Homo sapiens: one gene and its partner. The protein of the gene in region 2 interacts with the protein of the main gene of each other region in a biochemical or structural test. Each region holds a gene or a part of one and is shown on either strand. Other genes may lie near its edges.

What was found.
Region 1: the proteins of DCAF17 (region 2) and CUL4B form a complex in vitro, tested with the Homo sapiens proteins (one study listed by BioGRID).

The regions. Positions count from the first base shown.
Region 1 is NC_000023.11:120,540,463-120,544,293, reverse strand, and holds part of CUL4B (cullin-4B), read left to right. Parts: intron 1-90; coding exon 91-180; intron 181-484; coding exon 485-567; intron 568-1,260; coding exon 1,261-1,328; intron 1,329-2,573; coding exon 2,574-2,692; intron 2,693-3,731; coding exon 3,732-3,831.
Region 2 is NC_000002.12:171,482,337-171,485,831, reverse strand, and holds the end of DCAF17 (DDB1- and CUL4-associated factor 17), read right to left. Parts: 3' UTR 780-3,495; downstream 1-779. UniProt on the Homo sapiens protein: May function as a substrate receptor for CUL4-DDB1 E3 ubiquitin-protein ligase complex.

The DNA of each region.
Region 1 (3,831 bases), on a different chromosome or scaffold from region 2:
CAAATTCATAATGCTGTTTACATAGACATAGAGGACATTTAGTAAATATTTGCTAAATAAATGATCTCCTTCATTTTGTTCCCCCTCCAGATTTATCAAGATTCTTTTGAACAACGATTTTTGGAAGAAACTAACCGGCTCTATGCAGCTGAAGGCCAAAAATTAATGCAAGAAAGAGAGGTATTTAAAAATCATGACTAATAAATTCTCACTGTCTCTCACAATAGACCTTACTTTGTAGAATATAAGCTTCCCTTTGCATTTATCTTCCCAACATTGTGATGCTCTTCTCTCACTTAGGTGCTCCTTTCTTTTCTCTCTTCTTAAAGGCCAGAATTCTGGATCATAAACTCTACCTATAAATTTTTACATATGATTCTACCCTGTCACATTTGACAGGGCCACTTCCAGGATCTTTTGGACTTGACATTTTCTGAATGATTTATGGGGAGGAAAACAATAATGTAAAAAACTATCTTTGTAGGTTCCTGAATATCTACATCATGTTAACAAACGTCTAGAAGAAGAAGCAGACAGACTTATTACTTACTTAGATCAGACCACCCAGTAAGTACCACATGCTGAATTTAATAGTCTTAAACTGTCGTTAAATCACTTGCAGCACTTTAGCCATCCTAAACATGTTAGTAACTGTTTTCAGGTGTGATTTGAAGTGTTAACAGTTGTTTTCATAATACAAACTTCAAGTTATTCTTTTCCCTAGTTAATTAGTTTTCATCCAAGGATTCGATTATTAGGGGTGTGTGTGTGTGTGTGTGTGTGTGTGTGTGTGTGTGTTTAGAAGGTAATTTAGAAATAATACTAGAGGCTGATGTGACCTTTAAACTCTTCAGGCCAATTAAAATTCAGTGGATTCCCCTATTTCTGTGCTTTCCTAAGTATTAATATTGCCAGTCGAGGGGCCTCTGTATGTAGTACTTCTTTACCTTCCTAATAAAAGTAGCAAAACTTGGAAAAAGCCGACTACAGCAAGGTCTTGGAGATATTTATTTCGTTATGTAAACCAAATTCTAAAATATGCAGTGTTTTTTTAAAATTTTTGCCTGTCAGTTCCTTTATGTCTTTTTCTTTTAGGCATAAAGTATAGTAACTCTGAGCACCAATAAATTTATACATAGGATAGGAATCTTGAAATCAACATAAAATGAGCTATTTGATTTTTTTCCCCCCTCAGGAGAGGCTTTACATTTTCTGGAAGTCAAACGTCAATAATACTAACCTTTTTTTTTTTCCTTGTAGGAAGTCATTAATTGCTACTGTAGAAAAACAACTTCTAGGTGAACACTTAACAGCAATTCTTCAGAAAGGTAATTGGCAATTTGTAAATAAGAGATTGCTTTTTAAATGGTAGTGGCAAACTAGTAGGGAATTTTTAAAGATGTTGCCCTTTTAAAAGTTTGATAGCATGTGGCTGCATTTCTGAGGATGGACACAATCCTTATTAATCACAGTAAACTTCCTGGAGGTGCCAGTTTTCTTATCTGAAAGATACAGGAACTAGAAGAGAGGGATCCACAAATACCAATAAAAAAACAGTGGTTGATATGTGCCTGTAGTATCAGCTACTTGAGAGGCTGAGGCAGGAGGATTGCTTCAGCCCAGGAGTTTGAGGTCAGCCTGGGCAACATAGTGAGACTCTCGTCTCTTTAAATAAAATAAAAGAAAAAAAGTGGGAAATTCTTGACTTAATATGTAAGCTTTCAGTAAGGAAAGGTATTCCTTTTTACACTAAAGCGGTGAGGGTTTTTTGTTGTTCATGGCATGTCAAACCAAGCACTTCTAATCCCAAGTGAATTTAGAGTATACCCTACATTTTACTTTGAGAATGCCGCAAATAGGTAAAAGCCTTACCTTTCTCCCCAATAATATTTTCTTTTGTATAAAAATTTATATATTTAGAAATTTAATGCAGTTATACTGTTATTTCATCCTGGAAATCAAATATTTATTAGAGCCTCATTTAAATTTGACCTATTTATGCATGGCTTTTGATATATCACAGGCTATATCCAGTATTCTGAAATATAACTATGTACATAATATGGCTACTACATATATGAGGTATTTATAATGTATATTTATGTAAGCCAGTTTTTATAAGTTTGTTTTTGCCTCTAATCTATCATGCTAAATGGCACAAACCATTATGGAGTTAACCATTTTTCTTTTTCTTTTTAATTTTTTTAACTTTTTGAATTAAAATAGAGAGGGGGAGGGGGTCTTACTGTTGTGCCCAGGCTGGTCTTGACCTCCTGGCTTCAATTGATCCTCCTGCCTCAGCCTCCCAAAGTGCTGGGATTACAGGTGTGAGCCACCGTGCCTGGCCTGTTTTTATTTTTATAGCGACTAAAGTCTCTATATTTAGTTTTTACCCAGAAAGATGGTTGGGTTTAATTCAAAGGAAATCTTACATTACAACTCACATACAGACTAGTCATAGTTCAAACCAGTATCACAATAATGATTATAACTCAAATTTTATTAAAATGTCTGATAATCTTGTTCACTTTTTTGTTCACTATATTTTAATGCCAAAATGTTTTAAAATACAGGTTTAAATAACCTCCTTGATGAAAACCGAATTCAAGATTTGTCTCTTCTGTATCAGCTCTTCAGTAGAGTTCGAGGTGGAGTTCAGGTTCTTTTGCAGCAGTGGATCGAATATATCAAGGTATTAACAATTTACCTGTGATTTTTCTCTCTTATGGCTTATCTACACATCAAGAGTGCATATTGGCAAGCATTTCTTGTTTGATCCAATTTTTTTTTTTTTGAGACAGAGTTTTGCTCTCGTCACCCAGGCTGGAGTGCGGTGGCACGATCTTAGCTCGCTGCAACCTCTGCCTCCCAGGTTCAAGTGATTCTCCTGCCTCAGCCTCCCAAGTAGCTAGGATTACAGGCATGCACCACCATGCCTGGCTAATTTTGTATTTTTAGTAGAGACGGGGTTTCACCATGTTGGTCAGGCTGGCCTTGAACTCCTGAACTCAAATGATCCACCCGCCTTGGCCTCCCAAAGTGCTGGGATTACAGGCGTGAGCCACCACACCCGGACTTGATCCAGTTCTTTTAAGGGAATTTTAAATTTGTTTAAAAAGTAATGGGAATTTTGAGAACAGTCAACCTGAGAATGGTAGCTGTGTGGCATATCAGCTATAAAACCTGATTGATGGCTGACATAATTTCTGTCTCTACCACTTAAAGCAGTAAATGTAGAAAAAGACTTTGAACCCCAAATTTCTTTCCTTTCTTCAATCTTACACTAAAGCCAGATTGCCATTTTAAGGAAGTTGAAAGCTGACTTCTTTAAAAATAAGGAAAAGATCCCAGAGGCTTCTAATAATACCCTGTTATGATATCATATGCCCAGTGATCATTGCTTACTATTTTTGTGATTATAGATGAGTGGTTAACAGTGTGGATATTTAGCACTTTATTTTTTTGTCCTCATTTCACTATCAGCTTTATTTTGCCAGGTGCAGTGGTACATGCCTGTAACTCCAGCTACTTGGGAGGCTGAGGCAGGAGGATCCTTTCAGCCTAGGAGTTTCAGACTAGCCTGGGCAACATAGCAAGATTCCATCTTAAAAATAGCTTTATCTTACTTTTTAAAGATCTTTAAATATATATGCCACTTAAAATATGATTTGGGGATTGTTTTCATTGTAGACAATTCGATTACAGTAAAAAGTGGTAATTTTTTGTTTTAGGCATTTGGCAGCACTATTGTAATTAATCCTGAAAAAGATAAAACCATGGTTCAAGAATTGCTGGATTTTAAAGATAAGGTTGACCATATAATTGATATCT
Region 2 (3,495 bases):
AAAAGAGTATAAATAAATAAATACTTCTGAAATTTTGTGCACCTCTAAAATTTGAATATACTAATTTGCTATCACAACATATCCGGCCTAGAATACTACAGTTAGTGAGAAAAGGATACAGCTTGTTTAATATGCTCTCATATTAGAGAAAAAAAATTCACCTGATTTCACCTGTTATCATGTACATGATAACACGAACTCAACTTTTGAAGAAAAAAGTCACCTTTCTGCTTTTATTATAATGATTGTTGTGACCTCTTCTCCAGTGCCATTTTGTCCAGCTCCAGTAGTCATGTGAAACGGTGGAACACGTGCCCTTAGAACCCAGGTTGTTCCCAACTATGATCTCCATTAAAGGAATCAGGGTTCTTTGATGAGCAATGTATCCCATGTTTGAGAAAGAATAATTCAAGCTGAGTTTTGGGGTATCTTAACTATTATCACAAAGGATGTTTTCAGCAGTTCCTGGGGAAGGAAGGAGGTCAAGTTGACAAGAGGGTTGCTAACCACAAGTAGAAACAATCTGAGTATCAACTAGAAATGATTACACACCCAGCATAAATACTAAGATAAAGAAGACTAACAACCACACATGCTGGAGAATGTGTGGAGCAAGTGGAAGTCTCCTACATTGCTGCAAGCATGTAAAATCGTACAATCCTTTGGGGAAAAGGTCTGGCAGTTTCTTATTAAACTAAATATACACCTACCCAAGGACCCGAAAATTCCATCCCCAGGTATTTACCCAAGAGAAATAAAGACACATGTTCACAAAAGAATTGTCTAAGAATGTTCATAGCAGCTTTATTCATAACAGTAAAAAACAAGCAGAAAGAGCCCAGTGTCCATCAACAGAAAGATAAAAAAACAAACTGTGATATATTCATACGAAAGAATACTCAGCAATAAAAAGAAATGAATCACTGACACATGCAACAACATGAATAAATCTCAAAAACATTATGCTAAGTGAAAGAAGCATTACATTTTGTATAATTTCACTCATATGAAGTTTAGAACAGGTAAATTTAACCTTTGATATAAAAGAATGAGAACAGTAGTTATACCTGAGGGGTGGGGAGGGGATAGACTGGGAGAGGGATTTAGGAAACTTTCTGAAGATGATTGCAATGGTCTAAATTTTGGAAAGGGTTTGGGTTACACAGGTGTATATGTCTGCAAGAACTCAGTAAATTTATACTTAAGATTTGTACATTTTATTGCAGGTAAATCTTAAATCAAAAAAATTTAAAAACTAAATAAATACTAAACTCTAGTTAATAATCTGCAGTTGAAGTACTAGGGGGAAGTATATCAGCAACTGCAATTTATTTTGAAATCCATCAAAAAGTACGCTGGATAGGAAAATAATAAAACAAGTAGAGTAAGATGTAGAATCCCCGTGGTCAGTATTTACTATAAAATTCTTTCAATTTTACTGTATGTTTGAACATTTTTCATAATAAAATGATGGGAAAAAGACCTCAGTAGGTCTTATCTTTCTATTGTATGTCCCTTGTTTGAAATAAATTATTCTTTCTGCAAGATACAGATTTGATAGCAACACAGGGACCAGAAATTAGCTCCCTGGGATTCTAAAAGATGGATGATATAAGTAAACATGGTAAGAAGGAGAAGAAAATATAAAAATGATTAATATGGAAGCCAAATAATATGAAAACTACTAATACTGATTATCACCACAAACAAAGGGAAAGTACCTTTTAATGACTGCTAACCATTGAATGAAGAACTACATTTTCTGTCAATTTATGTGTGACTTGTATCTTACCCAAATTTGTTCAAAATTTAGACACTGAATCATCAGTAAAAAACGATTATTAAGCACTTTCCTACATATCTAGTATTATAGTTGTTGGTATGCTAAATTGGGATAAAATAACATGCCTTGCCTTTTGAGAACTTTGGAGGAAATTTGGCACAAGTTCATGCCGAACAAATCTGGTTATGTTTCCCACCTCTGCACTGACTAGTTGTGGGACCCTGGGCCAATTAACTTCTGTGAGCCTCACTTTCCTCATTTGTACAAAGGGGAAAGATAATGGCAGTTCATACTTCATGTGGTTATTCTGAATATTAAATGAGACAACCCACTTTACTTATACTGTATCACAGTGACTAGTAGATAGAAAGTGCTCAATAAATATATTATTTAAAAAAAGAACTGTAAGATACAAAACTTTCAATTGGTGGAAGAATGTGAAGTGCCTTAATTTGTCTAAACAGAGCGGTATCTCCTCACTAGGTAGCACAAATAGTAAATAGGATAGGATTTGTTTTGTTTTCTCCCAGAGTTGTGATAAATATTGTAAAAAATTGAGGAACAATAAGCTTGCTGCATTGATGCTCTGAGAATGCAGAAACTTAGATCCAGGAGTGCAATGCAGAATGCACCTCTTTTCAGCGTAACGTCTGTACCTGCTGATGGAAGCTACCCTGCTTCACCTGGGCTTGCATTAAACACTCAGAATTGTTACCCATAATGTTTTGTACCTGTCACTAGTACCTGTTAAGTAGGTGGGCATGTAGCTAGAGTCTCGAATTAAAATATCAGGTAAAGAGGGGGTTTAGGTAGGGCAGGAAGACATTAATGTCTGGCAGGTGGCAGAATGAGCAGCTGTGTGACACTCTGGCGAGCTGGGAAGCATGCTTCATTGTCTCTCGCTATGTGTGGTATCCAAATTCCCCACATTCTTTGCTATCTTCTGTATCTTCTGGCATCTTTTTACCATCTATCTTGTTAACAACCATGCAGCCTACATTCCCACATACTGTTGCAACTGGCTGAAACTAAGCAGTAGCAGCTGCTCCTTTTAGTTGGGGCATAGCTCTCCTGTTTGTTACACTGCCCACAACTCCTTACTGTCTTTCACATGAGGTATATTTCCTGCCTGGCCTGGATGGCATTTGGACCCTGGTCTAGTTAGATTTAGGCAGTGGTGACATACTGGGGGTTTCTTAGTGGTAAGTTATATCTAGACCAGAAGTATTCCACCATCTACCCCCAGCAAAAAAGCAGCCAGGAATTCAGCTATTTCTCAAATGCCTTTCAGAATAGACGAGTTCCTTACTATCATTTCATAAAAGGAAGGTGATGACTTAAAGGAGAAGGAGAAACTCAATAATCACCTAAAAAAAAAAATCTCTGACATGACTGAAGTCTTAAGACATCCTATTCTGAAACACTCTTGGAAATGGAGAATGAACACTCTACTTTTACACAGCATTGCAGCTGCTTTGAAACTCACACAACATTGGTTTCTTTCTTTAGTACTTTCACTGGCCTCTTACTGGTCTTGTTTTTCAAGATGTAAGTTTACTGAGTGGGACTATTTAGATACAGCTAGTGTCTAATTGAAAGTATGGGGCAATGTCTAGCACCAGGGCAGAACTGGGAAGAATTCACATCATTCTTAACATGGCATCAAGCCAAAACTGAAAAAAAAAATGGAAAGATTTTAATATAAATCATCC